3 separate regions of the Homo sapiens genome follow, and all the other regions are linked to region 2. Evidence: fine-mapped expression QTL. A gene starts in region 2. Each other region holds a variant in brackets. All regions are shown on one strand. Distances are between the middles of the regions.

Region 1 (11,240 bases), 320 kb after region 2:
TCCTCATAAACATTTAACCACAGAAGGACTACCCTAAAAGTCTATGTGGAAAGCTGTTCGAGAAAAAGAAGTCAATTTTTTGGTTTGTATTTTTTAATTTTTAGTAAGAATTTGGAATGAAGTTTCTTCTTCATATTTTGAGGGTTTTTTTTTTTAAATTCAGCTTTTGCCTCTGTTTTTTTTTTTGAAATGGAGTCTCACTCTGTCGCCCAGGCTGGAGTGCAGTGGCATGATCTTGGCTCACTGCAACCTCTGTATCCCAGGTTCAAGCAATTCTCCTGCCTCAGCTCCCGAGTATCTGGGATTACAGGCATGCGCCATCATTCCCAGCTAATTTTTGTATTTTTAGTAGAGATGGGGTTTCACCATGTTGGCCAGGCTGGTCTTTAACTCCTGACCCCAAATGATCTGCTTGCCTTGGCCTCCCAAAGTGTTGGGATTACAGGCGTGAGCCACTGCACCCAACTGACCAGCTTTTGCCTCCTGATATCTAAATATAAATTTTACATACACTGTGCTTGGATAGAGATCAATATTTGAAGAAACTCTGCATATAAGAACGAAAATGTTTAGGGTTAAAAAATGGCAGTTAGTATTATCAGACATTTAATGAGGTTGGAAGTCACAAAGATTAGGAAGGAGGGTATCAAAGGGTATCAAAGTTGAGTAAAAATGCTCTGTTTGACTTTTAATCATTCAATGCTTATATAATATCAGAAAAAATCATTCAGTGTATATCTCTGCAAAAATAGCTAAATATATATATATTTTTTTGAGACAGAGTCTTGCTTTGTTGCCAAGGCTGGAGTGCAGCGGTGTGATCTTGGGTCACTGCAGCCTCCTCCTGGGTTCAAGTGATTCTCCTGCCTCAGCCTCCCAAGTAGCTGGGACTACAGATGTACTTCACCACACCCAGCTAATTTTTGTATTTTTAGTAGAGCTGGGGTTTTACTACGTTGGCTGGGCTGGTCTCAAACTTCTGACCTCAGGTGATTCATCAACCTCAGCCTCCTGAAGTTCTGGGATTACAGGCATGAGCCACCGTGTTCAGCCAGCTAAAGCATTTTTGTTAGACAAAATCATTTTTGATTATTTCACTTATTTAAATTACAGATTTCTAAGTTTTGTATCATTTCACAAGGTATACATAATCAAAACATCACATTGTGAAATGATTCAGTCTAATCTTTCAATTCCCCCACCCCCAAAAAATGCCAATTAGAAGAAATTTCTCCATATAGATGTGAAAAAATAGTATTAATGGCTCTTGGTATTGTGAGAGGTAAAATGGACTGTAAGTTAAGAGGCTTAGGCTCTCTACCTTTAGCTTTAGAATGACTAAGATTGATTCTGAAGTTCAAAATAGATTCTAAGCTTGTACAATTGAAATGGGGGAAAAGGCCAGGAATGGTGGCTCACGCCTGTAATCCCAGCACTTTGGGAGGCCAAGGTGGGTAGATCACTTGAGGTCAGGAGTTTGAGATGAGCCTGGCCAACATGGTGAAACCCCACCTCTACTGAAAAAGACGAAAATTAGCCAGGTGTGGTGGTTTATGCCTGTAGTTCCAGCTCCTGAGGAGGCTGAGGCAGGATAATCGCTTGAACCCAGGAAGCGGAGGTTGCGGTAAGCCGAGATCATGTCACTGCACTCCATCCTGGGTGACAGAGAGAGACTCCATCTAAAAAAAAAAAAAATGGGGGAAAAAAGTTAATCCTATAAAGTGCATGGTGTTGTTATCTACTATGATTCTCCCCCTCACTCTGCTGCAGCTACAAGTGCCTTCCTTCCTGCTCCTCATCCTGTGTGGGCCAAGCTCTTTCTTATTTTGTGCTTTTTACTTGTTGTTTCCTTTCTTGGAATAGTGTTTGCCTGACTCTAGGTTAGGCAGAATAATGTCCCTCCCAAACATTGCAAATATAGTTGCAATTGCTTCTGTACTCCTTAATATTATTAAACATATTTTAAAACTTTTATTGATAATTATTCCAGATAAGTCATGTGTGCTCTTGTGGATTTGGACACAGAGTGCCCTATAGGAGTTTTAGGAAGTTCAGAGCAACCCAGCAAGGATCTTGGTAGGAGGACCGATTGTCAGATCAAGGGCTATACCTCAGTTTTGTCATAGTAAAACAACCAGGCTGGGCGCGGTGGCTCTCATCTGTAATCCCAGCACTTTGGGAGGCTGAGGCCGGTGGATCACTTGAGGTCAGGAGTTCAAGATCAGCCTGGCCAACATGGTAAAACCCCGTCTCTACTAAAAATACAAAAATTAGCCAGGCGTGGCGGTGCATGTCTGTAGTCCCAGCTACTCGGGGGGCTGAGGCACAAGAATTGCCTGAACCTGGGAGACGGAGGTTGCAGTGAGCCAAGGTTGCGCCACTGCACTCCAGTCTGGGCAGCAGAATGAGACTCCATCTCAAAAAAAAAAAAAACAAAAAACACACAACACAAAAAACATCTTCCTCTTTATCCTTTGTTAGTAATTTTATGCTTGACTGATTTGTGAAATTCTGGGATATTTGGGGACTTTTAGTTTTGTAGTATTAAGTTAATAGCAGTTATATATTCATGATAAGTATATATACACACACATATAATGAATTTTCCACTTTGTTGGAGTGGAGATGGTTTTTGATGGAGTGGAGATGGTTTTTGCTGTTAGCTTCTCTTGGCAGCAGATCTTTCGTTCAGTGCTAATAGAATCTTCCTTCAGTTTATTTCTCTGGATTGATTCAAAAGTTACTTTTGTATTGTCTAGTGTCTCAAACGTATAGAAGTTAGAGAGATGGTATACACGGAGAAGAGTTAAAGGCTGTGCTTTCAATGGCCATTTGACATATTTTAGAATCTATGTTTTAGGGAAATAAATATCTTACTTTCCTCTCTGTATTCCTTGCAAGTGTGTCATTTAATTCTGGGTTTCTGGGATTGTTATATATACCTGGTTGTAAAAGTAGTCATGGAGTTCCTCTGTAATAGACTTTGTAAATTTGTCAGATATAAAATGCTTATCTCGAGTATACATTTTACAGTATTCTTTTAAAATTATTTCTTTTTATGTCCTCTGAAATAAATAGATTCTGGAATATATTCATGAGAGTGCTAAGGAAATGAAAGACGATACTTTTTAGGGAGATCCAGGACTGATGATGCTCTTTCAATTCACTTACCACTTATAATAATACTGAAGATTCTGTCAGATATATTTAGGGTATCACACACACAAAAAGGATTTCTTTTTTCTAGCACATTTGGGAACACTGATAAGTTATTTCTAAATCTAAAAGATTTTTGGGTTACTTGGAATTTACAGGTTGACATTTAATTCAAGGTTTCTTGTAGACTTCATATTTTCCCTCCTAATTTTTAGAGCTGATTAAGCAGTACTATTTATTAGTAAAATTTGTTTTCCATATAAAGTTCAAGGACAAATGGGAAATGTGAATTATTACACTAAATGTAGAAATTAATCCATTAAAAGGAAAATCAAGAGATTTCAGCTGCATTTTGGATTTAAGGCCAAGAAGCCTGTTAAAAAATATCATCGTCCCTTTTAAGAGTTCAAGTGGCAAAATGCCAGGCTGCTATCAAGACTCCTTTTATATTAGGGAAGGCTTTCAAGGGGAGAAATGAGATGACATTAAAATAGAGAATAAAGGAGAGATTGGCCTTTTATGATAAGTATTCATGTTACCTTATGGATAAAACCCAGACTTTGAGTCTGTGTGATAGTATGGATTATGAGTTAACTTGAGATGAACTACTGCACCCAAAATGTGCTTATTAATGGACTGATATTGATAGAGATAGGACTTTAGATGTATGCTGCAAAAGTCTATCTTAAGCACTATCCCATTAAACATTTTTCTTAATGACTTCAGTAAGGATCCGATGGCATGTGTCAAGTTTGCAGATACTGTAAAGCTGAGAGAAAGAACTAATGTGCAAGGTTTCTGAATCTGGATTTAAAAAGAATCTGAGACATTGTAATGTTGGTCTGAGTTTAGCAAGATAAAACTTAGGGACCAATGCTAAATCTCATGCCCAAATCCTAACTTGTTTAAATTTTAAATATGGGAAAGTCATTACTTTATAGAAACATATTTTTAAAAATGAGATTGTACACTTTAATTGAAGCCAATAGTGTAACATAGCTGCCAAAAAAGAGATATTATCATCTTAAGTGGGATTTATTGAAAAATGTTAAGTTCAGCTGTTGTTTGTACTGTCCAGATTACACTTGACTATTGAATATGTATCTAGATACTACTCTTTAAATAGGACATTGACAATATGGAGCCTATCCACAAAAGAGACTAATATTGTTAGAAGACATAAACTTAGAGGCAGTTTTCAACTCCTTGTAAAAACGTTCTCCATTCATCCTTCATTCAATCAATATACTTGAGGCAATCCTGCGCTTGTTCTTGGAAACAGAAGTAAGCAACAAGACAATGCCGCTCTTAAGGAGCTTTTATTTTAATGAGGAGGAGACAGTTACGACTAAGTAAACTAAAGAATTTCAAACAATAATAAAAACTATGAAGAAAATAAAACAGGGCAATATGATAATGATTGGTAATTGGTTAGGAAGATTATCAGCCAGAAAATTTCTCTCTGAGGCAATGACATTGGAATTGAGACTTGGTGGTAAGGGGCCAGCCATGCAAGGCTATGGAAAGTGTTGCAGGCAGAGGGACTAAGACAATACGAAAGCCTTGAGCAGAGTAGCTGGAGAGAGATGAGTGGAAGGGGGAGTTGCAGGAAATCAGGAAGGCTAATGACTCTGAATTTATTCTAAGTGTAATGAGAAGCCACTGGAGGGTTTTAAATCAGATATGATCTGATTTACCTTTGAAAAGATCACTTTTCATGGTAAGTGGACAATGAATTGTGGCAGGTAAGACTAGAGAAGAGTTTGGAACAGTGAACAGTTTAATGAGTTATAACATGAAACCATATTTTCGTCCAATTATTGCCTCTCAATTACTATAATTGAATTTTTCTTTGCCTTTTTGACAATGTTTTAAGAAGATTCCGTAATTTAAAAATATTTTTTCATTATTAAAAAATCTAGTTTATTTGCTGTGATTGTAAAAGTGCCATAAATAGTAAAGCTCATTTTTTAAAAGTCTAGTTCAGTCTAAAAGCTTGTATCTCAAACTCACTCTTAATTTCAAGTCTCCAATGCTAAACAAGATGGAATAACGGTGCAGATTTTCCCTGCCATTTGAACCAACTAGAAAAAACTGACAAAATTTAAGAAACACTGGTTTTCTTTTTATTATTATTATTATTATTATACTTTAAGTTCCAGGGTACATGTGCACAACATGCAGGTTTGTTACATATGTATACATGTGCCATGTTGGTGTGCTGCACCCATTAACTCATCATTTACATTAGGTATATCTCCTAATGCTATCCCTCCCCACTCCCCCCACCCCATGACAGGCCCTGGTGTGTGATATTCCCCATCCTGTGTCCAAGTGTTCTCATTGTTCAATTCCCACCTGTGAGTGAGAACATGCGGAAGAAACACTGGTTTTCAAGACATTAGGCAATGCAGGACAGTGATTTCGGAGAGACTGGAAACAAATAAGGAGACCATTGCCCCATGTTGCCTTGGAGAGAGTTCCCAGGCCATGGCTTCACTGGAGGAATTCTGCCAAACATTTAAGGAAAAATAATACTAATTCTACACAGACTCCTCCAGAAAATTGGAGAGGGGGAAATACTTCTAAACTC[A/T]TCTTTTCAGGACAGCATTATTGTAGTAACAAAACCATGCAAAGACATTACAAGAAAAGAACATTTTAAATCAATTATCCCTCATGAATATAAAAGCAGAAATTCTAAGCAAAATTTTGGTAAATAAAATTCAAAATTTATGAAAAGGATGTTATATCATAACTAAGTGGGGTTTATTCTAGGAATGTAAGGTTAGTTTAACATTTAAAAATAAATGTAATTCACCATATTAAACAAAAAAAGGAAAACCATATGGTTATCTCAATAGACAGAGAAAAAATATTTGACAAATATTCAATGTTCACTTCTGATAAAAACTCACAGCAAACCAGGAAGAGAAGGGAACTTCCTCAACTTGGTAAAGGGCACCCAAGAAAAACCTAACATCATACTTAAAAAACTGAATTCTGAAGATGTGAACTTTTTAATAGCTTTACTGAGATGTAACTGACATACAGTGCACTGCACACATTTGAACTGTACAATTTGATCAATTTTGACATGTGTGTACACCTGTGAATTCATTATCACCACTAAGATAATGAACATATTCATCATCTCCAAAAGCTTCCTTATGTCCTTTTATAGACTTATAGTCCCGCCTTCCCTTCTCTCTGTCCCCACCTTCCCAGATAATCACTGATCTGCTGTCACTATGCATTTGTTTGAATTTTCTAGAAAAAAATATAAATATATCCAAATATAGAATCATACACTATGTACTTCTTCTTTTTTTTTTTTTTTTTTTTTTTTTGAGACAGAGTCTTGTTCTGTCGCCCAGGCTGGAGTGCAATGGCGCGACCTCGCTCACTGCAAACTCTGCCTCCCGGGTTCAAGCGATTCTCCTGCCTCCGCCTCCTATGTAGCTGGGATTACAGGCACCCACCACCACACCCGGCTAATTTTTGTATTTTTAGTAGAGACAAGGTTTCACCATGTTGGTCAAGCTGGTCTTGAACTCCTGACCTTGCGTTCTGCCCAGTTTGGCCTCCCAAAGTGCTGGGATTACAGGAGTGAGCCACTGTGCCCAGCCTGTACTTTCTTAAAAAAATTTTTATCTGGCTTCTTTCCCTCAGAATAATTATTTTGAGATTCATCCATATTGTGTCTATTAATAGCTTATTCATTTTTATTATTGAGTAATGGATATACCACAATTTGTTTATCCAATTTGTTTTTGGACATTTAGACTGCTTCCAGCTTTAGGCTATTACAAATAAAGCTAACATATCTTCCAAGTGAACTTCCTCCTCACCCATCCTAAGTTGGAAACTTTGGACATTTTCATTTATACTTTATATAGCATGATCATGTATCATTTTTGATATTCCTGCACATCCACAACCCAAGGGGCCATGTCAGGTTCTCCCAGGAATGCTTTCCCCAAACTTCATTGCAGTTGGTAGCTGCATTTTCTGCAACTCCACAAGGAGTTAAGACATAATGATGACGACGATGATAATAATAAGTAACTAGTACTTACATAACACTTATTGTGTGCCAAGATCTAACTTCTTCACATGATGTAATAGATGTAATAAATATTAACCTGACAACAATCCTGTGAAGCATATATTGTTATTTCCCCCTTTTACAGATAGAGGAAATTAAGAGAGATTAAGTGATTTGTTCAAGGTTTGTCCAGTGTTACCTAGCTAGAGAGTGGTGGAATTGGGGGATAAACCCAATCAGTCAGGTTCAGAGCCCTTTCTCTTAACTATTATGCTATATTGCTTCTCAATCTCCCCTGCTTTTAGGGTCCCTGATCTCTTGGGTGATTTTCTTGAAACTCTCCCTCACTTGAATCTGGGGAGAGGAAGGTGCCCCACCTTTACTCTCTACTCTCCCAAGGGTGAAGCGAGGTGGGATATGTGTGTGGGAGTCTCTTATTACAAACACTATGATTTCAACAAGGTAACAGCTGCTCTTATAACATCCCCCCTCTTCCCTCCCTAGTCTTCTAAAGATGAGATGGGAGTGTATGGGAGCGGTGGAGTGGTGGTTGATGGAAGTAGATTGAGTTTTGTTGCCTCTTTTTAGAAAAAAATTGTATGTGTACATAATAGTTATACATTGAAAACTACTGTTATCTTCCTTAGCCTTGCCTTCAATTCCTGGCCTCAAGCGATCCTCCTGCCTTAGCCTCCTGAGTAGCTGGGACTACAGGCATGCACCACTGTGTCTGGCTTCGTTGCCTCTTAACAAACCTTGGAGGAAATATTTGGCTTGCTTTAGATTTGTGGTACTTAGTCATTCTTGTTTATGATCTGTGTGCCTTAGTCACCAATGCTGAGGGAAAGGAAAAGTTACTTTTTAATTATAGAAGCTATTATGGTAGTCCAGGAAAGAGGATGGAGGCTTGGACTAGGTTGGTAGTGAAAACGGAGAGAATCAGATGAATTTGGGATATGTTTTGGAGAGAAAGCCGACAGGTCATGCTGGTAAATTGGATGTAGGGGAGAGGAAAAGAAAGGAAGCAAAGAAGAGGATTTTGGCTTGAGTAACTGATGGAGGTGTCATTTACTGAGATGGGGGAAAACTTGAGACAGAAAGAGATTGGTATGTGAGTGTGAGGATGGATTGGTCATCAAGAATACCGTTTTACCTGGTTAAGTTTAGATACCCATTTAGATAGCTACATGGAGATATAAAATAAAAAGTTGGACATAGGCATTCAGAACTCAATGGGCAAGGTAAAAGTTAAAGTTATACATTTGAGAGTCCTCAGTGTGCCCTATGTTTAAAGGCATGGAATAAGGTAAAATTAATTAAGGAGAGGCTAAGAGAATAGAAAAGATGAGGATTAAGCCTTGATGTCCTCAATATTCAGAGGAAAATTTGGCAAGAGACCCAGAAGGAGTCACCAGTGAGACAGGAGGAAAACAGGGAGTTACATTCTCTGTGTCCCATGAGAATAAAATCTTGTCACAATTTGAATATCCCAAAATATAATGAGTTGTGTCCACAGGGAGTGGAGCATCCAACTATTTCGGATGATTTTCAACTAAATGCTGAATTCGGTTATATAGAATATTGAAAAAAAATTGAGAGTCATGAAGGTGAGACTAAATTACCTTTAAGATCTCTTTCATCTAGCTGAGTCTATCACTGAATCTCTTACTACACAAATCTTAAATGTGAGTATAGAAAAATAAGCCTCTTTTTTTGCTGAGAATTTAGAACACATGGCTAAGTTCTCAATCACTTAACACACATGTAAAGGGTTCTACTATTCACATTTGACATTTTTTTAGTGGCAAAAACATAACTAAAACTGGCAAAGAAGTGGTTTAAAAATTAAACTGGAACTTGTATTTGTATATAGTAGGTTAATGATAAAAAGAATATGCAACAGCTTACCTATAGTGAATTATAAGCAAATACAAACTTCAGCTAACTTTTCAGTATGGCTATTTATTTAAAAATTACCTTTATTAATCTTTTGTTCTTCCATAAATAGTTATTGCTGCTAGTTATTCTGCACTCCCTTACTTCCTGCCCTAGGCCAGTCTTTTTTTCCATTAGTTTTCAAACTTCAGTGCACATCAGAATCAACTGGGATGCTTTTTGAAAATACATATTCCAAGGTCACATCTCCAGAAATTCTGAGTGTTACCAAGAAATCCATATTTTAACCAGTACTACAAGTGGTTCTAGTCAGATGATCCCTAGAGCACACAAGGCAAAACACTAGTCCAGATCCTATGTTGCCAGCATAGGTAATTCTCTTCTAATGACAAATGTGTCACACTTTATTTTTATTAACGCAATTTATTTTAGATTTATAGTTTACATAATCGAAATATAAAAATGCAAGATTGGCCAGGCGCAGTGGCTCACGCCTGTAATCCCAGTACTTTGGGAGGCCGAGGCAGGCAGATTACCTGAGGTTAGGAGTTCCAGACCAGCGTGAACAACATGGAGAAACCCCGTCTCTACTAAAGATACAATACTAGCTGGGCATGGTGGCACATGCCTATAATCCCAGCTATTCAGGAGGCTGAGACAGGAGAATTGCTTGAACCTGGGAGGTGGAGGTTGCAGTGAGCCGAGATGGCACCATTGCACTCCAGCCTGGGCAACAAGAGCAAAACTCCATCTCAAAAAAAAAAAAAAAAGCAAGATTGGAAGAATGAAAATATCAAATATAGAGCTTTTCTTTAGGTTAGTAATTATGAGTTAAATAATCTTTGCTGTTATAAAAAAGGAAACTTTTGGAGAAGTTTTAATTTGTTCCCAAGGATTTACTCAACTTGCTTTGGGAAGGCAGTCTAGCCTTGAGTTTATTTTTCAAGAATTAAAAAGGTATCCAGCTGACTATTAATTACTATTTTTTTTTGAGTGATTGAATAAGTCAGTTATTTAGAAACTTCAGTTGGGGGTGAGGATCTTTTAGAGTGGTTGATAGTTGTTTTGACCTCCTGACCACAAACTAAAATAATGTGCTTTCAGGTCTGTTTCTTTTTTTAATAAACTGTCCATGTGATGCCAGTATATTTTCCCTAAACTCAAGTAGTTGCTAAGTCCTACTGATAGTAGAAATTAAAATAGGAATAAACTTGGACAGTATAGTAATATTGCGTATGACAGTGCCTGACACTTTGTTCTTACAGACTTTCAATACATACTCTGAAGAAGTGCAATCATGTGCTAGCCTTTAATGTCTCTTTCATCCTGTCATTTCGTATTTCTAGCTTTGAAGTCTGCTTGCCTTACTTATGATTCTGAAGTACTCCTAATTACCTCTTAAAATTCTAGGAGTCCCTTCAAAAATTAGAGCTGAGAACCAGAAGTAACACGGATTTGATGCTGTTGTGTAACCAGCATATTCTTGGAACCAACCTTGCCTAAGAGACAGGAAATTCCAGCATGTTGGAGTGGGAGTGCAGGGGGTGCTCTGTCCAAAAGCTCAGTTAAAAAAAATGACATTAATTAAGTGAAAAAAATTTTACACAAAATACTGCAGTGATTCAGTTTGCTTTTGAGGCATCTCAAAAATCATCTTATGGGTTTGCAATTCTGAAAGGTGTAACTAGACAGAAGGTCCGTCTTAATGCTATCAAATTAAAATATGGCAACTTATTTATCTGGTATATACCCGCTTCTTTTTTTTTTTTTTTTTTTTTCGAGATAGAGTCTCCCTCTGTCACCCAGGCTAGAGTGCAGTGGTGCCATCTCGGCTTACTGCAGCCTCTTGCATCCAAGATTCAAGCGATTCTCCTGCCCCAGCCTCCCGCATAGCTGGGATTACAGGCCCTCACCATGTCCAGCTCATTTTTGTATTTTTAGTAGAGACGGGGTTTCACCATGTTGGCCAGGCTGGTCTTGAATTCCTGACCCCAAGTGATCCACCTGCCTCGGCCTCCCAGAGTGCAGGGTTTACAGGTGTGAGGCACTGCGCCCAGCCAAGTATCTACCAGCTTCTAATTCCAATTCCATGTTTGAGCTTATAAAATAACTGAAAGTAATCAAAATATATTTTGTAAGATAT
Region 2 (11,240 bases):
TGAAACCCATTGATATGGAGAGCCAACTGTATATATATCCATGTAACCACCACCTAGATGAAGATATATACCTAAAGCGAGATTTGAAAGTTTTATTGAAAAAGAAAAAGAAAAAGAGATTAAGTACTACTGCTCCTCTAAACCAAGAGGCTTTTATCTACTTAAATTTTATTTTCATACCTCAAATTCATCTTGAGTACTTTGAACATTGCACCATCTGGCAACAGGTTCAGGAACCACTTCCCAATCTTCACACAATTGTTTAAGGATATTCACAAATGTTGACTTCCCTGCAGCTGTTGTGAGGAAAGATAAAATTGAGGAAGAAAAGTTGTCAGGAAAAAAAGATGTCAAGTAGTCATTAGCTTTTGCAAGATTTACAATAGCAAGCAACATAAAAAGCCCAAAACATTCAACTTTCTAAACTTTCTCTTCATATTTCTTTAGAAGAAAATGAAAAGGCTCCCTGCCCAATTTCATTAAGCACATTTGTTTTTTATTACGTTTAGTTTAACAATATATTATATTTAATAGTAGGGACAGTCTTGACCTAGAAGTAATACTCCTAATGGCCACCACACCCTTTATATCTGAAGTCACCAAATGTGGTTGTATTAGACATCTCTGGTTAGCATAATGTTCTCTCTCTTTCCCTGTGTGTGCGTGCACACACACACAGATGAACATATAAATAACTTCAATATACTTACAAGCAAAGCTTCCTCTTCCTTATAAATTAGATCCATGGGGAGTAGAAAGAACTTACCTTTGACTTGCAGAACTATATTTAAATCTAGGACATTAGACAGGGCAATAGAAAAGAAGAAAAACCTGGAAGAACTTTAAAGAATTACACACAGAGAAAAAACAGGAGCGAGGCAGTAAAGAAGGTGACACAGGTAGACAGTTTAGAAGAAAAACACAAAGTAAACTGTATCCAGAGGAGAGGAGAAAAACTTTTAACGATAAACTGGATAACAGTGAGATTTAATCATGGTAAAAACACTGGCCACCAAAATTTAGTATGGAGAGTGTAAGCTTAGGGACTGTACAGCATTTAGAAGAATGTTAAGTGGAAGTGAAAGCATATAGAAAGAACACCCCACATTCACTGAGCTAGATGGAAGAGGGAAAGGAGAACATGATGTTCAGAAATAGCACCCAAGGAACAAATAAAAAAATTAGGCATCCACCAGAGTCTGAAAGCACTTAAGGCTACAGCATTCAACTTTCTTCTGACACTGCTTACAAGCAGAAAAATTCATATGGTCATACTTAAAAAGTCTAAGAGTAATAACAGTTACATTTAGTTCAAGCAGAGTAATAACAGCTAGAGTTCCCAATCACACTAACACATCTAGTTCCTTAACTTATTGGGGCAAAGTGGGAGCTAGAAAATAAGCTAATTAATAAATTAATTTTCTATGAAGGCAAAGGAGAACAAGAACCAAAGACACTGATGTTAATACTTTAAAAAGTCATGGAAACTAACAGAATTCCTAATGCCAAGCAGGCATTATAATGCTGAAAGTCATTCTGAACAGACTATTAAGATGAGAAGCAGGTAAGTCCTCCATCAATCTAACATAAGGGAACATTTGAGTAACACAGAACATAAGAAGATGGGTTATATAAATATAAAACTAAAACGACCAAGTAAAGTTCAAATTCTAGGAAAAATAGAGGAATTGCAAAATAGTTTACGCACAGCTTAACAATTTGTGCATTTACAGCTTATTTGGATCTGGCAAATAAGGTGAAGGAGACATGAACAAAAGTGCAAGACCAATAATGAACAGTAACTAACAAAGTCTCAGTGTCAGGGAGACGAAAAATGGCAAGGAACATGCTCCATCTAAACACCAATTGTTGTCATACAGAAATGCAGGCCCGGTGTTAACAGATCTTCAGATTTTTCAAAAGAAGCCAAGAATCTAATTGTTTATGGGAAATCTCAAAACGTTTTCGAGTTAGCAACAAATTTAATTTTTTTTTCTTTAGACACAGGGTCTCACTCTGTAGCCCAGGCTGTAGGGCAGTGGCACAACCACAGCTCACGGCAGCCTCAAACTATAGGTCTCAAAGATCTCCACCTCAGCCTCCTGAGTAGCTAGGACTAAACGTGCATGCTAACACAACTGGCTTTTTTTTTTTTTTTGAGACTCTGTCACCCAGGCTGGGGTGCAGTGGTGCCATCTCAGCTCACTGCAACTTCTGCCTCCCACATTCAAGTGATCCTCCCACATCAGCATCAGCCGCCTGAGTAGTTGGAGCTACAGGCGTGATCCACTGTGCCTGGCCTAATTTTATTTTTATTTTTCTTAGAGACTAGTTCTCACTATGTTGCCATGCTAGTCTCAAACTCCTGGCCTCAAGCAATCCTCCTGCCTCAGCCTCCCAAAGCACTGGGATTACAAGCTTGAGCCACTGGCCAGTAAAATTTTTTTTCAACCTGTGCAGGCCAATATTGTGCAATTGCAGGCTATCAGTTCACAACTACTTTCAGTGTAGGTAAAGGCAAAATCAGTGAAGAATTTTAAGCAGGGGATAACACATGACATTTGCATACAAAAAGACCGTTGCAGAAGTAGTTAAGAGAAACTGGAGATGGGATGATATATTAGGAAATTATTTCAGCTGCTGAAAAGATTAAAGATGCTTTGAGGAAATATTTCTAAATATGATGCTACCTAACTGGATTGGAGAGAGGGAAAGGGGATGAATGTATTGTGGTATTGATCCGAGGGGTTATTCATTCAACTTTACTGTTTTGTTTCTGTGTTTTTAACAGAGTCTTGCTCTGTCACCCAGGCTAGAGTGCAGTAGTGTGATCATGGCTCACTGTGGCCTTGATCTTTGGGCTCAAGCAATCCTCCTGCCTCAGCCTCCTGAGTAGCTGGAGGCACACCAACACATGCAACTAATTTTTTAATTTTTTTGTGGAGATGAGTTCTCACTATGTTGCCCAGGCTGATCTGGAACTCCTGGACTCAAGTGATCCTCTTGCCTAAGCCTCCCCAAATCCTGGGATTACAAGTATGAGCCTCCATGCCCTGCCTCAAATTTACTTTTCAGATGGCTTTGTTCAGCCACTTTCTCCTGTCTTTATATATGGTCTTCTTTATTCAGTAAGCAGCTGTCAGAGATTCCATACTAGTAAACATGCACCCTCAAATAACTTACATTGCTAATTATATCATATGGTCTTTCTACTGGTGCTTTAATTCTGGAGCAATGAAATAAGAAGTCCTCTTTGAGAATGCAGTTTTTCTATTCATTTGAATGCTTAAAGCATCTGCTTGCCTGGCCTTTTTCAAGAAGGTACAGTGCTTTGAATGTGGTAAGAATTTTAAAAAATTTGCTGTATGCATGAATGACCAGCACCCAACCTGGAGCTAAAAAAATTTTTTTTTAAATCTATCAAAACAGGAAGTTTCAGGGGTAGGTTTCCTGTGGTTGGAGATACAGAAGAATCGGACGTTGGTGTGTATCTTGCAAAGTGACAGGCATGGCCTAGTCTGCCCCCCATCTGAGTTAACAGAAACGTTAGTGGTCTTTGAATCATAATCCAATGTTTACTTGGATGTGGAGTAAGGGGTGAGGAACTCCATGCTATTAAGATCATTAAAGACCTCTTTGCTTGTACTCGAATGTTTCGAGTTTCGTTAATAATATAGCTAAAACAATGCTTCGCTAATAATATAGCTAAAAAACTGTAAACAACCCTGAGGTCCACAACTAGAAAATGGATAAACGATGGTACATCCATGCAATGGAATACTACTCAGCAATAAAAAGAAACAAACTACAGACACAAGTAACATGAATGAATTTCAAAAGCATTATGCTAAATGAAAGACGCCAGACACAAAAGGCGATATAGCCTATGATTCCATTTATATGGCATTCTGGAAAAGGCAACACTTGCAGGGATAGAAATCAAATCAGTGGGTGCCAGGGAATAGGAAGGGTGGAGGGGGCTGAATACAAAGGAGCAGGTAGGAACTTTCTAAGGTGATGAAAATGTTCTGTATCTCGATCATGGTGATAGCAAAAGGCATAATGTTTGTCAAACCTCATAGAAGAGTACACCTAAAAAGGGTGAATTTAATGTAAGTTACACCTCAAGAAATCTAATACCCTTCCCCCGCTTCCCTTTGCGAGTTCCCAACAAAGAGGGAGCAGAGGTTCAAAGCGCGCCTCACAGAGACCGCAGGCCTGGCGCCCAGTCTGACCCCGGGGACCGCAGTCACCCCGTGGAGCGGGAGGTAAGGGAAGGATGCTCTGGGTGGGAAAGGAAGCCGAGGCCGCGTCCACACCGCCAGGCTGGAGGGAAAGCCCTCACCGAGTTGCTGCAGAGAGATGCGGCGAAGGGAAGCTTCAGCCACTGCCGCGACACCCCAGCCTTGCGTCCCACATTTCCGGAGGCTCCTTACCGATGTTCCCTTCGATGGAGATTTTCTTGATGCGGGTCCCCTCAGAGCTGGCTGAGAAAGACGGGCAGCTTCTCTTGGGCGGGGTGGCCATTCCTTAGTCTTGTGGCGGCCCAGAGCTCGTCCGGCAAAGAGGGCTGGGAGGCGGCCACGGGTGCGCGCACTGGAGCTCGCGGCGCCGCTAAGCCAGATCCTGACCTGCCGGGTCAGCTAGTGAGCTCACCGGCCCGCCGGCGGGTGTCGGGGTTTGACTTTGGCGCGCGGAGGCAGCTGAGGACACTGGCGGGCCTGCGGGGCGGCCCCGCCCTCCTCAAGCCGCGCTCCCTAGCTGCCCCTCGGCCCTCGCCCGCCTCCAGCGCGGGTTCCCGCGTGCGCGCTCCGCACGCCAGGTCACGTGAAGGCCGGGGCGGGGCCGCGCGTGTGGCGGAAGGCCTCTACCCCAAGCAGCCAGGCGCCCGGGCAGGGCGCGGGAAGAGGTTCCGGAGTCGGGTGGGGAGGAAGGGTGGACCCCAGAGGCCTGAGGGCGCTGGAGGGCAGAGGGCGTCACCTGCAGTGGGCCGTGCCAGGCTTTGGAAAACCCGCCTCTCTAGTGGGCCTGTTGGAGATGAACAGACGCGTCTGGACAGAACTGGATAGACTTAAAGCTTTGAACTCATCTGGGGAGAAGGCACTGTGTGGTAGGAAAATCAAATGGATTTACTCTGGCTTCTCAGCCTAGAGGAAGACTATCAGGCGAAGTGCCGTCCTTGGGAATCGCACTGCCCACTTAGAGAGCCAGGCTGTTTTCTTCTATGTGCTTTTCATTAATTAACGAAGTCTAGTGCCAGAAATACCGTCATTAGCCCATTTACCTGCCAGTGGGAAAACAGGCACTGAGAGGCTGCTTGTTCCAAGTGTCAAAGTCAGTAAGTGAAACTGGGATGGGAATTTAGGTAGTCAGATGCCACCCACAGGAGGCCTTTCCAGATCTCCCATACCGCTTTCCATTTGATTTGGATGCACGACCATGCTGTATAGAAGTTAGCACGTTGGGTAGGTAGGTTTCTGTTCAGCTGTTAACTCAGCCTGCCCGACACCTGGCACATAGGTAACAAAATGTACTGTATGTTGAATTTTTGAATGCCTACTCATGTGCCATGTACTCTGCTAGAATACTCATCTAGATGGGACAAATGCAGTGTAGGATTTGTCCCAGCTAGATGAGTGCATTTTTAGTCAGGGTAAAGACCTAATGAGGCAAGAGAATAGGGAATTAGGGTAACCAAGGGTTAAGGCATAAGCAAAAGAACAGCAGGTGCAGCAATTTCTAGGCAAGACTAGGCAGCATACAGGCCACACCTTCACTCCTGTGATTACAAGACAGAAGTTTCCACATCGCCTCTGATTGTCCTCGGCCATCTCCATTTCAGCCTCTGATTGGTCGCAGGCCAATCCTTCATAGGGTGCAACCAATTGGACGACTGTAAAGGGCACCTAGGGATTTACCAAATTCTTTTAGCCTAGTAACCCTTAAGAACACTGCAATTGGGACTCTTGAAGCACTTGGTTCGCTTCAATAAATTTGTGCTTTTGTTACTTCGTTCTTTTGTTGTTTTGTCTTTCGTTGCTTCTTTTGTTGCTTTGTTTCTACGTTTTGTTCAATTCTTTGTTCAACACGCCAAAAACCCAGACAACTCAGTCAAGACTTCCCATCCAGTAACACTAATAAACCGGATATTACCCAGTCTGGAAGTTATCTGGTCCAAATTGTCTACAGAAACCAAAGGCCTTGCTATTCTTTTTTACATTGCAACTATCATCAGACCTGAAATGCATCTAAATGTGTAGCCAGAAGGGGAAAACGGTGACTCCATCCTCAGAAATAAAGAGCAGAAATTAAAATGTGAATCCTCGGGGATCACATTTTCCAGGATTAAACAGCAAGAATCATTCTATGTAACTGCCCTATATTATTCTGTTATGCAATTATTTTGTATATATTACTTTTACTTATCCCTATAGTGATTAATAGCAAGATCCTAGGAATATAAGAGGCCTGAAGAGTTGTCATCAGGTATAGCAAGGAAGTTGGGAGAAAGGTGCTGCGGAAGCTAATAGGTATCACATTTCACAGCCAAGCTTGGGGGAAAACTCATGAAATGGTAAGAGTACTGGCAGCTACCGAGAGGAGGAAGGCAAGTCTCTTGAGACCTTCAACAGGAAAGCAGAGCTGGTCCTGGATGGATGTCATAAAGAGGCTTGGGGTTAAGGAGTAGAAATCTCCAAGTGTGGTTTCCACAAAAAAGACCCACACAAGAAGTATCTTACAATGATGAAGAGTTTAAGCACTGGAAAATGAAAGATTTCAAACACCAGTTCTACCAGTTTCTGGCTGCAAAAACTTGAATTCATCTGAGCTTAAGAGTATACTTTGAAAAATACAAATGTGGGAGGCCGAGGCAGGTGAATCGCTTGAGCCCAGGAGTTTGAGACTAGCCTGGGCAACATGGCAAAACTCTTGTCTCTACAAAAAATAGAAAAATTAGCCAGGCGCCTGTAGTCCCAACTATTTGGGAGGCTGAGGTGGGAGAATTACCGAAGCCAGGGAGTCAAGGCTGCAGTGAGCCAAGATCATGCCACTGTACTCCAGTGAGATCCTGTCTCAACTAACAACAACAAAGTAAATGGGGGAAGCAAAGAATCTAGCTTTTTTGGCATTAAGTCCAGCATAATTTCCCATTTTCCTACATGACCTGGGGGTAACACAAGGAGAGAACAGAGAAAAGCACTTTTCAAAACATCTTGATTTTTGGTCCACAATCTCTTATCTAAAACCCTGGCAGCCAGATGTTTCAGAATTTAAAACTTTTAGAAAAGATTTTTAGAAAAGAAATTCTAAACTTTGGAACTGGCTGGACGCAGTGGCTCTTGCCTATAATCCCAGCACTTTGGGAGGTACTCTGGAATGCTTGAGCTCAGGAATTCGAGACCAACCAGGGAAACATGGCGAAACTAATAGAAAAAATACAAAAATTAGCTGGTTGTGGTGGCACACACCTGTGGTCCCAGCTACTCAGGAGGCTGAGGTGGGAGGATGGTTTGGGCCTGCAAAGTTTTAGCTTTAGTAAGCTATGATCGCGCCACTGCATGCCAGCCTGAGTGACACAGCAGCAAGACCCCGTCTCAATAATAAAATTTGGAATCGAAACTTTAGAAACGATACAGTGCATATACTGTATATTAATTATTAAGTAAGCACCCCCACTCCCCCTGCAGAGGTGTTAAATCAAATGCACTAATATTTTGCAGTGAAACAAAGAGTGTTAACATGAAGTGGGATAAAGACTATTAACATCTGGTCAGAATAAGTTTGCACTGAATTCAAAAAAAATACCTTTGGGGCCAAGCACGGTGGCTCACGCCTGTAATCCCAACACTGTGGGAGGCCGAGATGGACAGATTACCTGAGTTCAGGAGTTCGAGACCAACCTGGCCAACATGGCGAAACCCTGTCTCTACTAAAGATACAAAAACTAGCCGGGCGTGGTGGTGTGTGCCTGTGGTCCCAGCTACTCGGGAGGCTGAAGCTGGAGAATCGCTTGCACCCGGGAGGCGGAAGTTGCATTAAGCCAAGATCATGCCACTGCACTCCAGCCTGGATGAGAGTGAGACCCCGTCTCAAAAAAACAAACAAAAAAATTTTGGTTTTCTGAGCTTTTCAGGTTTTGAAACTGCAGATAAGAGACAGGATACAGCGCACCCAGCCAGTCATGATCGTGCTGCCACCTAATCCTTTCTTACCAGAAATTTTACTACTCCTTCAATTTGGGAATTTTCTCCTGTGGGAATTCTAGTGTAACTAAAGAATGAGACAGCGTTCTGACTGACAACATACAGGTTTATTAGGAAAACTAAATCAACCCAGAAAATAATAAAAAGCAGAAAAAATAAGAGACCCTGAACATTAAGTAGTGGTTACACAGCCCATGAGTTTGTCTACACAAACTCAACTACTTCTGTAAAATGATATTTATCAACTTAATAAGCTTGGTTATAAATTTCCCCTTGTAATCTTCATTAGTGCCTAGAAAACGGGGTACAGAAGCCATCATAAATGCAAGAGTGGGAGTCAGTGTGCTTCCTGCAAATCTGAAATCTGAAAGCAAAATAACATACTAGAAGAGCATAGGAGCCATCAGATGTATACAGCTTAGCAAAGAAAGCTGTTTTACTACATGCTTGTGAAGTGGACTGAGGTCATCAAGAAAATGTGACACTGTATTCATCATGCTGTAACAGGAGCATGTACAATTTCTTAGTAAAACTTCTACTAAACATGGTTGTTTAAACCTTAGAGGAATAATTAATTAGAATCTTTGTGTTGCAAAATGCTCATTGCAGATGTTATATAAGGGATTAACAACTTATAATACATTTAGTACAACAGAGGTAAATGAACCTAATTATCAAAATGTAGGTAATTTTACAATATATATTTCTTTACACACAATAAATGAATAACAGAGTGTTTTTATTTTTTTATTTTTTGAGACGGAGTCTTGCTCTGTCGCCCAGGCTGGAGTGCAGTGGCACAGTCCGCCTCTCGGATTCAAGCAATTCTCCTGCCTCAGCCTCCCGAGTAACTGGGACAACAGGCAAGCGCCACCGTGCCCGGCTAATTTTTTAATGTATTTTTTAGTAGAGATGGGGTTTCCCCACATTGGCCAGGCAGGTCTCAACTCCTGAGCTCGTGATCCGCCCACCTCGGCCTCCCTAAGTGCTGGGATTACAGGCGTGAGCCACCGCGCCCGGCCCACAGGGCGTTTTTAAAGCATGCAGACACAGTCCACAACAGCATTGGCTAGCATTTCAACTAGTCTTTCTCCCAAATACCATTAGTGACTTTGAGCAACTGTGGCTACTACCATTAAATATTCTTAACCTGAAGATTCAAACACAAATGCCTCTAACATAAATACTTCTGATACTCTGAGAAGACTTCTAAAATACACGTTTTGGCCAGGCGCGATGGCTCACGCCTATAATCCCAGCACTTTGGGAAGCCAAAGCTCATGGGTCACCTTAGGTCAGGAGTTTTGAGACCAGCCTGGCCAACATGGTGAAACCCTGTCTCTACTAAAAATACAAAAAATTAGCCGGACATAGTGGCATATGCCTGTAATCCCAGCTACTTGGGAGGCTGAGGCAGGAGAATCACTTGAACCCAGGAGGTGGAAGTTGCAGTGAGCTGAGGTCGTGCCATTGCACTCCAGCCTGGGCAACAGAGCAAGACTCCGTCTCATAAATAAAATAAAATAAAATACACATTTCCTTTTGGAACTTGGTAAATGATTCTCCAATATTATTAATATTCCTTAATGATCTGTAATGAAGACAAAATATTAAATAATAGCTTGGTGAAGAGGTCAACAAATGATTATTACTGTGCTAACTGTTCTCACTGTAATAGTATATATTATAGAAAACATACACCTGCATACTGCAGAATAAAGAAAAAAGTGAAAAAAGTAAAACAGAAACACTGGTTTCAAGTTCAGACACAGTAGGGTTTTAAAACCGTAATCCAAATCAGTGACTTGTACAATTTCTGAGCTTTAGTTTTCTAAGATGTTAAGACACTGGTTGTTGTGAACATTACAGAAAATAGTGCCTAACAAATTTTAAATGTTCAACATATTCCATATGCCATCAATATTTCCCTTGGAATGTGTTTAGTGTGGGAATGCCTATAGCAAAAATAAACAGTAATGCAAAGTCAGGATTCATGGCCAAACGTAACTATTTATTCATTTTTTTCTTATAAACATTGAGTTTCTTCTTTAAAAAAAAAAAAACACCTAGAATTTAAATATTTCCCATCCCATCACATACAAGTCTGTATACATTATTTACATCTTTTGAATAAAACATATTACAGATTTTCTGACATCAGTATCCCTTTTTAAACAAAAATGAAGCAATTAAACTTTGATCAGTAACAACTACAATTTGCATAATCCGGCACAGTTTGTAATATAGCGCCTATGTTGGATTTCATAACTTAGATGATTTTTCCCCTTCTAGTTACTTGATTATAAGAGAGAAACTGTCTCCATGAGAGTAGTTCCCTGTCTTTATGCACTCTTCTCAATACTTGCACAGTGTAAATGCCGCCCTTATTCTTCCATTACTTGGCACTGACAATATTCCTCTGCTTTTGTCTTCAGAAATGATTTCTATTTGAACTTTAAGTGTTCTCATATATACTGTATTCTCCTTCAACCCAGATTTCATGACACTGTTCCTAGTGTTAATTCTATGCAGTAAAAGTTAAACCTATAGGAAAAGTTCAAATAAAACATCAAGTAAGTGTTTCCTACAAGATTAGTGCCCTCACCACCCTGGTTATGCATGTACAATAATAAATACAAGTTAGTAGCTCCAAAAAAACTACTTTCCCTAAAAAGTCATTTCTGTCGAACAATTTAAGGAGCAAAGCATCCTTAAAATGAAAATGCACTAATCTTTTTTACAACCTGCACAATTAAGTATTTCAGAAAAACAAAAACTTGTGCAAAATGGTAAGAAACGCCCACCTATACAAATTTAATATTAAATCAGATGAGAACATGAATTTATAAGTAAAAAACAATTTAATATTAATAATATATAGAGAAATTAAATATTGAAATTTTAACTTTGTATCACTAATAATCTCAGCTTCAGTGAAATAATTTAAAAAAAGCTGTCAAACACTAATTTCCTAAATAAACTGAAACCTATGAATTGACAGTAAATACTTCAGAATCTCTAACAATGAAGACCTGC
Region 3 (11,240 bases), 37 kb before region 2:
GCCCATGTAACAGCATGGTGGTGCAGGATATGGAAGGCATATTTACAGTCAGTATAAATATTGACGCCTAGTCCCTTTGTAAGAGTGAGGTCCCAAGTTAAGGCAATGAGTTCAGCTTGCTGAGAGGTAGTGGAGGGGGCAGAGCGGTAGCCTCAATGATAGATGTGGAAGATACTATAGCATAGCCTGCCTTTGCTGGTGAGTGGTGATTAGGCCTGATCAAACTGCCATCAATAAACCAGGTGTGATCAGGGTGAGGAACAGGAAAGAAGGAAATATGGGGAAATGGAGTGAATGCCAGGTGTATCAGAGAGATACAGTCATGCAGGTCAGGTGTGGTATCAGGAATAATGTGGGAGGCTGGATTGAAGTCCCGGCCAGGAAAAATGGTAATTGTGGGAGACTCAACAAAGAGTGAGTATAGCTGAAGGAGCTAGGGGGCAGAAAGTATATGCATCAAGTGTGAGGAGGAAAATAGATTTTGAAAGTTATGGGAACTGGAGAGAGTAAGTGGAGCATAGCTTGTGATTTTGAGGGCCTCTAAAAGTATTAAAGCAGTGGCAGCCACTGCACACAGACATGAGGGCTAGGCTAAAACAGTAAGGTCAAGTTGTCTGGACAGAAAGGCTACAGGGCGCAGTCCCAGCTCTTGTGTAAGAACTCTGACCGCACAGCCCTGCACTTCAGCTGTGTGTAATGAAAAGGGTTAGGATGAGTTAGGGAGAGCTACTGTGGGAGCAGCTTCTAGGGCTGTTTTTAAGGAACGGAAAGGAGTGGCGAAAGGATTTAGGATCTATGGGGTCAGCTAGGTTTATCTAGAATAGAATAATGGGTTGTGGAGGGAGGTACTGAGGATAGGAGAGTATATGGGTTTGGCACCACAGGGTGGATAGGCAAGACCATTGGTTGATAAAGCACAGATCCTGAACTAACCTGTAAGACTTGTCCGGTTTTTGGACAGGTAAAATGGGGGAATTGTAAGGAGAGTTTATAGGCTTTAAAAGGCCATGCTGAAACAGGTGAGTGATAACAGGGTTTAATCCTTTTAAAGTGTGCTGTGGGACGGGATATTGGCATTGAGCGGGGTAAGGGTGATTAGGTTTTAATGGGATGGTAAGGGGTGCATCATCTGTCACCAAGGAGGGAGTAGAGGTGTCCTATACTTGTGGATTAAGGTGGGGAGATACAAAGGGAGGATGCGAAGGAGGCTTTGAACTGGGGGAAAAGGTGGCAATGAGGTGTGGCTGTAGCCCAGGAATAGTCAGGGAAGCAGATAATTTAGTTAAAATGTCTCGATCTAATAAGGGAGCTGGGCAGGTGGGGATAACTAAAAAGGAGTGCATAAAAGAATGTTGTCCAAGTTGGCATCAGAGTTGGGGAGTTTTAAGAGGCTTAGAAGCCTGGACGTCAATACCCACAACAGTTATGGAAGCAAGGGAACCAGGCCCTTGAAAAGAAGGTAATGTGGAGTGGGTAGCCTCCGTATTGATTAAGATGGGGACAGACTTACCCTCCACTGTAAGAGTTACCCAAAGCATCTGCGATGGTCCAGGAGGCTTCCGAGGCGATCGGGCAGCATCAGTCTTCAGCCACTAAGCCGAGGACAGCTGGGAAGGAGTCGGCCAAGGAACATTGGGTTTGGGCTCCAGGGGCTTTAGGAGCGGCAGCGATGTGAGTCGGATAGTCTGACCTCCAGTGGGGGCCCACACAGGCAGGACATGGCTTAGGAGGAATCTTGGGCACCGGGCATTCTGAGGCCCAGGGGCCAGGCTTTTGGCATTTGAAGCAAGGTCCACAAGGATGTTTTGAAGGAGCCCCTGGGAGCTGTGGCTTGGATGTTCTGAAGTTCTTGTATGCTGGAGACATGGTTGTGGGTTGTCTTACAGCAGAGGCAAGTAGCTGTAACTCAGAAACACGTTGCTGTCTGGCTACCTCCTCTCTATTATTGTACACCTTGAAGGTGAGGTTGATTAATTCCTGTTGTGGCGTTTGAGGGCCGGATTCCAATTTTTGAAGTTTTCTAATGTCAAGAGCTGACTGGGTGATAAAATGCATATTGAGAATAAGACGGCCTTCCTCTGGGGTCTAGGACAGTAAAGCATCTAAGGGTTGTTGCCAAACGGGCCATGAACTGCACTGGGTTTTTATATTTGATGAAAAAGAGCCTAAATGCTAACTGATTTGGGAGAGGTCGGATAAAGAAAAAAGGAGCATTAACTTTGACTATGCCTTTAACTCCAGCCACCTCTTCAAGAGGAAATTGTTGGGCAGGTGGGGAAGGGCTAGTCGCGGAAGGAAACTGTAAGCCAGACCGGGTGTGAGGAGGGGAAGTGATAGAAAGATTATAGGGTGGGGGAGCAGAGGCTGAGGAAGAATTGGGACCTGGCACAGCCTGGCAAGGAGCAGCCTGGGTAGAAGGGGAGAGGTCAGATGAGTCCGCAGAAAAGGATTCAAAGGACTCAGAGCTTGGTGTGGAGACTGAAGGAACAGACAGGAGAGAAAGAAGAAGGATTTGGGATGAGTCGCATTAACTTTGACTATGCCTTTAACTCCAGCCACCTCTTCAAGAGGAAATTGTTGGGCAGGTGGGGAAGGGCTAGTCGCGGAAGGAAACTGTAAGCCAGACCGGGTGTGAGGAGGGGAGGTGATAGAAAGATTATAGGGTGGGGGAGCAGAGGCTGAGGAAGAATTGGGACCTGGCACAGCCTGGCAAGGAGCAGCCTGGGTAGAAGGGGAGAGGTCAGATGAGTCCGTAGAAAAGGATTCAAAGGACTCAGAGCTTGGTGTGGAGACTGAAGGAACAGACAGGAGAGAAAGAAGAAGGATTTGGGATGAGTCGCATTGGGAGCAGAGACTAGGGAGGGACAAATGTGTAAAAGAATGCCTAGACATCAGGCACCTCAGACCATTTGCCCATTTTTCAACAAAAATTATCTAGATCTTGTAGGATAGACAAATTGAAAGTGCCATTCTCCGGCCACCTGGAACTACTGTTGAGTTTGTATTGGAGCCAAGTGGTACTGCAGAAGAAAATAAGGCATTTAAGTTTTAGGTCAGGTGTGAGTTGAAGAGGTTTTAAGTTCTTGAGAACACAGGCTAAGGGAGAAGGGGGAATGGAGGGCGGAAGGTTGCCCATAGTGAAGGAGGTAAGTTTAAAGAGAAAGGTAGAGACACGGGGAAGGGGGTGGGCGAGCAGCCCGGGGCTGCAATGTGGGTGAGCAACCAAAGCAGACGTCCCCGCAATTGACTTGCCACCAAGGGAATGTGGGTGAATCACCAAGGCAGGCTCCCTGCAGTGATCAGACACCAATGAAATGTGGGTGAATAATCAGTCAGGCGTCCCCACAGTGATTAAACACCAAGGGAAGACTGTCTTCCTGAGTCCATGACCGGCGCCGGAGTTTTGGGTCCATGGATAAAATGTGTCTCCTTTGTCTCTACTAGAGAGGAAAAAGAACTGGAATTGGAAGGACAGGGAGATTGACGAGACAGGCTGGAGAAGAGAGTGAAAAGACCGCTTACCGGATTTGAAATTGGTGAGATGTTCCTTGGGCTGGTTGGTCTGAGGACCCAAGGTGGTAGGTGCATCTCTTCACAGAGTGAGGGTGAGAACAGGGGACTGGTCTCCCGAAGGAGTCCCTCTGACTCGGGTCTTTGGCACCAAATGTCTCTCGCGTCCGTGTGAAGAAACCACCAAACAGGCTTTGTGTGAGCAACAAGGCTATTTCATCTGGGTGCAGGCGGGCTGAGTCCGAAAAAAGAGCCAGCCAAAGATGCTTTAAAGTTTATGAATTAAAGTAAGACATAAAACTGGTAAAATCCAAATTAGGTCTGTAGTTTAGTTAATAGTAGTACACCAAATTTAATTGTTTTGATAAAATATTATTGTTAAATAAAGTTATCATTGGGAAATAACTGAGTGACAGGTAAACAGGAACTCTGTAATATTCTTGCAACTTTTATGAGTCTAAAGCTATTTCAAAAAAAGCTTTTAGCGCAGGGCACAATGGCTCGTGCCTGTAATCCCAGCGCTTTGGGAGGCCAAGGCAGGATGATCACTTGAGCCCAGGAGTTTGAGACCAGACTGGACAACAATACCCCATCTATACAAAAAATAATTTTAAAAAATTAGCCATCATGGTGGTGAAAGCCCTGTAGTCCCAGCTACTTAAGTGGCTGAGGCAGTATTGCTTGAGCCCAGGAGTTTAAGACTACAGTAAACTATAACTGCGCCACTGTACTCCGGCCTAGGCAACAGAACAAGACCCTCTCTCAAAACAAAAAAAAAAAAAAAATTAAAAGAAGAGGTAAGTTAGTCAAATGAAGAAGGCTATTATTTACCAGACTTAATGTTGCAATGTATCTAGCATTTTTCAAAGGCAATAACATCTATATCTCTATTTTAGAAACATTTTACAACTCTGTTCTTTAACATATGACAGACTTAAGTTCTAGGTGGCTCGGTATAAGTTTCAAGTTTTAGGCATAGCAGAAGAGAAAATTCTGGATGAGAAAAATAAGTCTTGTATTATTAATTACCTTTCTAGGAGAGCAAACTATAAAGAGCAATAAATAAATTCTAATGGAAGACATGATATAGGTAATAGATCCAAGAGATAATCCAGACCACCATTAGGCTCAATTCTATTATGACCACCACACTGAGACAACTTTTGAGTCATGACAAATAAATAATAAATTTTTATTAGCGTCTTTTCAATTCTACAAATTTTAAAAGTCATTATACATTTTTAAAGGTTACTAAAAATCACTGAAATATGTCTCCACTTAAAATGGAATCAAAGTAATTTATACAATTTTCACCTTTAATATTCATAATTTATTTAAAAGTAGAATAAATTTTAATTCTAAAATGATTATTACATCTTTTTAGAACTGAAATTACATTTCAATGAGTGTAGCTCCACTGTAGTTCATAAGGTTTATACTTAAGAAATATTTAATTAACAAATTAATTTATACCAAACAAAAACAAACTAAAAAAATGCATACGTATAATGAGACAGTTTATGTATGGTAATTACAGATTTGAAATTAAGTCTCCTTTGCAAAGATCAGTGC[G/A]TCTGGACTGGTTAATCCACTAAATTATCATCTTTGAATAAGAAACCAAAAACAAAAATGACTTGGAAAGAAAAATAGTAGTTTAAAAGTGAAAATGACTCTTCCCCTTATTTTAAAATACATAAAATTTTCTAAAACGTAAAATGGAAAGGTTTAATACACAGGAAAAACACTGCACACCTTAACTAAACAAACTAGAAAGAAAATATATTTATATACAGAACTAAGATGAGTCCATTCATTATTTTTACAAATATTCACATAGATGGTTTAGAGATAAGTAGTTAAGTGTGTCTCATTAATTAATGGATGCTTTCTAGCCTCTGTCTTCATTAATTTTATTTCCTATTCAACAAAAAATAATGCTTTCAGGATATATTACATATAGAGCAATATCATTTTTATCAGTAATTTGTCTGAAAAAGAGAAAAACTTAAAAGCAGAACCCTACAAAGCAAAGCAAACTACAAAGCAAAGAGTAATCACAGTGTTTGCAAAATAGAAATGTGTGACTTTAACTTTATAGCAGGCTGCCTAATTAATCCAGACAGTAGAGAAAGCAGACTGAGGCAGGAAGTAAGAGGTGGGACTAAACTGTTAAGAAGATAATAATTTAAAATAAAACTTCAGAATCCTTATTCTAGGGATTCCTTTAATTCCACTTTGCAACTTTTAATAGGTACACTAATTTACACAGGACACACTACCATTTACTATGTAACATTAAAGCTTTCAGTTTAAGAAACTGGTCACCAACGAAGTGAGAGGCACCAGGGAAAAAAGCCAACCTGCTGAGGAAGACAAAAGAGGGGAATGACAGAAGGAAGCTGGATCTTTTATAATGTAGTTTAGTCACTATGCTGATACTGGAACCATCTACCTCTACATTTCCTGCTATGAGAAATAATGTCTTTGTCTTTAAATGTCTTTTTTAAAAAAAAAACAAAAGAAAAGAAACTGGTCAAAAAGTTTTGCATAAGATTCATTTTAAAAATCTTTTTTCCTTAAAACAAAAACGATTAAAAACTTGGGTTTTCTAAAGAAACTTATATTAATATGAAGTTACGAAGATACACAAAGCTGAAGTATCTGGAACCATTTGGCTGCCTGTAGTCTTCAGCAAGATCACAAAGTACTCAAAAACTCTTTGACCTGAGGAAAGGAAGAAAAAAAAATCAGTATAATTCCTTGACTAATTTGAGGTATCTAATATTCATCTTCATTTAAAAGTATATAATAGTTGAAGACCCCAGCTGTATAAGTAACTACCACAATGCCATTGCATTTACTTTCCAAAGAAATATTGTTAAGGCCGGGCGCAGCGGCTCATGCCTGTAATTCTAGCATTTTGGGAGGCCGAGATGGGTGGATCACTTAAGGTCAGGAGTTTCAGACCAGCCTGGCCAACATGGTGAAACCCCCCATCTCTACTAAAAACACAAAAATAGGCCAGGCGCAGTGGCTCATGCCTATAATCCCAGCACTTTGGGAGGCCGAGGCGGGCAGATCACCTGCGGTCAGGAGTTCGAGACCTGCCTGACCAACATGGAGAAACCCCTTCTCTACTAAAAATACAAAATTAGCCGGGCATAGTGGCACATGCCTGTAATCCCAGCTACTAGGGAGGCCAAGGCAGAAGAATCGCTTGAACCTGGGAGGCAGAGGTTGTGGTGAGCTGAGATCGCGCCATCGCACTCCAGCCTGGGCAACAAGAGCAAAACTCCGTCTCAAAAAAAAAAAAAAATTAGCTAGGCATGGAGGCGTGCACTTGTAATCCCACCTACTTAGGAGGCTGAGGCAGAACTGGTTGAACCTGGGAGGTGGAGATGGCAGTGAGCCAAGATTGTGCCATTGCACTCCAGCCTGGGCGACGGAGCAAGACTGTCTCGAGAAAAAAAAGAAATATTGTTAAATACTTCAGTAGTAAAAGATGAATGACCTAAAAGGTCATTTTAGGAGTTATTTATTGCTCTGTCACCCAGGCTGAGTACAGTGGTGCAATCAAAGCTCACTGCAGCCTTGAACTCCTGGCTAGGTGCACACCATCATGTCTGGCTAGTTTTTGTTTGTTTTTTATAGAGATGAGGTCTCACTATGTTGCCCAAGCTGGTCAGGAACTCCTGGGCTCAAGCAGTCTTCCCACCTCAGCCTCCCAAAGTGCTGGGATTACAGGTGTGAGCCACTGCATCTATCAATCTAAGATAGATATAGTTCTAAAATAGCTGTAACACCAATTTTATAATCTCTTCATTTAAATATCATAGACCACTGACATATGCAGCTTTAACACTGATAACATTAATAAGCACAATAGTTCAAGCAACTTTGAAAATCAAACATGTAGTAGATTTGTCATGTTTCTGAAGCACATATGTGAATCACATACTTTGCAATGTCAGTGTGTGCAGAAAATCATGTAAGGAGTCAATGAACCTAGCCTACTGACCATAATGTAAGAATATGCTTGTTCTCTACATATTCTAGGCTACTCAATAATTCTCAAGAAACAAAAATTATTGCCTTGTAAAAATACCTTAATAAGAAAGTCAACTGCTAGCATTATTAATAAAAGTAAATATAATAATGTGAAATGATTCTTAGTCAAAACAAAGAAGTGTTAGATAAAATTAAAAAGTGATTTACAAAGTCAGTTAAATTGATGGTTGGCTGTTAATACTTAATGCTGACTTTTCATTTAATAGTATTGTAAGTGAATTTATCCTATATTTTTAACATCATTAGTAGTATGAAGAGGTCATTGGAATTTTCCAGATAAGCTTTAGTTCATACCATGGGAAAAACAACTACATGTATACGCTACAGTAGTTACATAAAATGTCAAGATTTTCAAAATCCTTGATATATCCCTTATGAATGTCAAGTCTCTATTAAACAGCAGACATTATGCCACAAAAGAAAGGAAAAATCAAATTTTTCTCAAAACTAAACCAAATTGTGCTTTCTTCTTTATAGCTTAATCACTCAGTTATCAACATGGGTATAGGGATATTTGTTATACCAATTCCCTTACTATTCTCTCTCAAATATTCATCAATAAATTCTCACCCATTCCCTTTATCAATATGGGCACCACTCACTTAACAGAATATAGTCAACTCCCAGTGATTTGGGCAATAAATGAACTGTGATTAAGACAATGACTCAATGATTAAGTAATGTCAATTAATCCTTGACATGATCCCAAATGAAACTCAAAACTAAAATCCCTTAATCTCAAGACTTTGGCCAACATAAAAATAGATGAGATCCATATCCTGTAACTTTAAATATCCTCCATATTGAATTTAGTTGAAAAAGATAAATTTAATTTCACAAGCAGTTTATTATTAAAGTATCTAAAGATTGGTGGTGTAGGGAAGAGAGGAAGAAATGGGGACAAAGCAGAGAAAAAGGGGGTGAGAAAGAATTTTTGTTATTATAATTTTACCTATCCTACAGATAGAGGCACTAAAGGATAAAAAAAAATCCTTATTTTATTTTTATTTATTTAATTTTTTTCTAAGATCTGTCAGATTCTGAGATTCCGAAGGATCTTTATTTTAGCTCAGGCCACAAAGCTAGAATTTAGTCAGGACTGGAATCTTAAACAGTCCAAAATCTTCTAAAGCTCTTAACTGTTTCTTAATGTAACTTTATGGAAGCTTTTCTGTTAGAAAATTGTTTTCTCACCACTCAGTACACTTTTTTAGAAAAAACAAATATTTGTTTGTAGTCTGTCTAAATCTACCTTTTCAACCAGACTTTCATATTTGTCTTTAAAGTCTTCATTAACATCCAGTGTTAAGATAGGCACCTCTTGAAGATAATCGAAGTTGGTTCTGTTTAAAAAGAGAGATTAATAAAATAATCAGAAATTCAACAAAAAAAAGAGAGAAACATTAAAAATTCATTCGTATGTCCTTGGAAAATCAAAATGTTGTCAATCATTTACACTAAAGTTACTTTGCAGTACTTCATCTGGCAGCCCCTTCTTTCTCATCTAGATTTACCATATGGAGCCCAAAAACTTAGGTACAAAATATATACAGCTGGGTACTGTAACATATGATTCTCTTCAAAAACAAATAGCAGTCAATAAAGTAGGAATTTCTGCATTTTTAAAGATGAGAAAACTAAAGCTCAGAATTGTCATTCTGAAGCTCAGAGGCTATCCAAGGTCACACACCAGTAAGACTGGACTTGAGCCAAGATCTGACTAATAACAAAGTCTATCCTCTCAACAACCACGCTATACAATCTCCCAAGTCAAAATTCTTTCTGAAAGAGTACCTAAATAATGTTCAGATATATTCCTACTTTATCACTTAAAGTGAAATTTCACATATTACGCTATCAATACCACCAAGGGATACTAGTTATAAAAACTTTAAGTAAATAGGATCTCATTGCAATCAAGAGAATGAAAATCTATACCTAGTTCTGGAAGATACCAATAAGCAAAACGACTGGAAATTTTACATATTGCTAGTCATATCTTCCAAATTTTAGATTAAAATTTAACAAAGGTAACAAAGGTATTTAAAATGAATAGTAAATAAAAATAAGTCTTACTTCAGTGTCCTATGCAGGAGCCAGCTTTCATGTTTATAATGAAGCTTCTCTAAATATTCAAGAGGAATGCCTTGCTCTTCATTTCTTCCCCGTAAATATATTCTATGTAAGCATGTCTAAAAGCAAGTAATAAGAGATGGAAGAAAAAGGCAGGGAACAATTATTCTTGTCTGCTGCCATCAAAATTTTCTTTTCTGTGTCTCTCTACTCACGCTAGCCAAAATCTCTACTTATTACTTCTTAAAAGCTGAAATAATTCATTTTTCCCTCCATGAGCTTTTCAGCCACTTGGTGGCTCTAAGCCAAGCAGTACTTTCAAAAATAAGCCTATAAATTTTTGGTATCCATCCACACATGAAATATACTAAGTTTGATAAAAAGGAGAAAAAAATTAAACATCTACTTAAAATGTTCAGAGACAACAGCTAAAAGGTATGCCAATCTATAAACATAATCTTACTTTGCTGTTAACCAACCTTGATTACAAAATATCTATGTTCAGTTCACATAAAACCACTAAAGACAGTGGTTCTTAATGTGATGAAAACTCTATATCAGCACAACCAAAACAACTTTGGAATGTTTTATGCCTGTCCTATATCTGCATTATCAAATAAGGTAGCCACCAGCCACCTGTGGTTTTTAAGCACTTGAAATATGGCTAGTGTGGTGACCAAGGAACTAAATATCTAAATTTTATTTAATTTTAATAACCCTAAATTTAAATAGCCACATTGGACAGTGCAGCTCTAGATAACGGTCCCCCAAAAGCACACATACATAAAAAATTTCGTATAATTTGTGGGGGCTCATATACCATGAGAAACTCTTCATGCATTCCAAGAAATAAAAGCCTCCAACCTAAATGACATGCATAAGACCATGGCAGCATACAAACTGTGTTTCAAACTCTACTCTAAATTCTCTTTTCAATAATTAAACAATCCTTTCATCCAAAGATATCAGAAACAATACTGATGAAATTATCAGTATCAAAATGAAATTATTAGTATTATTTATGTTTTTGGTGTTTGTACTATTTTCATAACTTTAAGAAACCTTTTCAAAAATAAAAGTGAATTTCAAAATTATTATATTTGCTAAATTCTAGCTTAATAGTGACTATAAATGTTTCAAGCAAAATGAAATTATTCATATTCCTTATGTTCTTTTTCACATTTTTATTTACTATTTTTGTAATTAAAAACAAAAAAATTCAAAAATAAAAGTGAATTTCAAAATTCACTTTTGAAATTGCTAAAAAATTGCTAAATCCTTGCTTAATGAAGAACAAAATCTTTACTTAATGAAGAACAAAATCATCCGTTGGAATAGGAAACCTAATTTCTTTGAAAACCCAGCTTCGACAGCAACACAGTATTCTAATTTTAGGCCAGAAGTCATAACATTTACATTCATCAGTGCCTACCCTGTGACTTAAGGAAAAAATGAGAATTAAAAAACAGAAACAATAGAAATGCACGCACCAAAACCAGAAAGCTTCTGATTAAATGTAAGATCTTAATATTTAGGTTAGTTTTATGAAAGGCATCTATTTGGTCATCCTGTATTCATTATATAACATC

Evidence for each region. PIP is the estimated chance that this variant, and not a neighbour inherited with it, causes the effect.
Region 1: its variant is fine-mapped to the expression of DCK in T cells (TOPMed, PIP 0.97). The same link has a PIP of 0.9 or more in visceral fat.
Region 3: its variant is fine-mapped to the expression of DCK in whole blood (TOPMed, PIP above 0.99).

The regions. Positions count from the first base shown.
Region 1 is chr4:70,667,267-70,678,506 of GRCh38, reverse strand. No RefSeq gene overlaps it. Among named protein-coding and RNA genes, the nearest start is that of JCHAIN, 6.4 kb to the right of the region's middle. The variant A/T (reference allele first, on the strand shown) is at 5,750.
Region 2 is chr4:70,987,123-70,998,362 of GRCh38, reverse strand. DCK (deoxycytidine kinase) reads right to left here and starts at 4,714. Exons shown (of 7, transcript NM_000788.3): 1 at 4,437-4,714; 2 at 181-296. The coding sequence starts at 4,527. It overlaps MOB1B (MOB kinase activator 1B), which reads right to left. Exons shown (of 6, transcript NM_173468.4): 6 at 10,195-11,240. RefSeq lists an enhancer at 4,289-4,468 and a silencer at 4,639-4,978.
Region 3 is chr4:71,024,346-71,035,585 of GRCh38, reverse strand. It overlaps DCK (deoxycytidine kinase), which reads right to left. Exons shown (of 7, transcript NM_000788.3): 5 at 9,655-9,770; 6 at 8,831-8,921; 7 at 4,672-6,234. The coding sequence ends at 6,208. Among named protein-coding and RNA genes, the nearest start is that of DCK, 36 kb to the right of the region's middle. RefSeq lists an enhancer at 6,308-6,808. The variant G/A (reference allele first, on the strand shown) is at 5,083.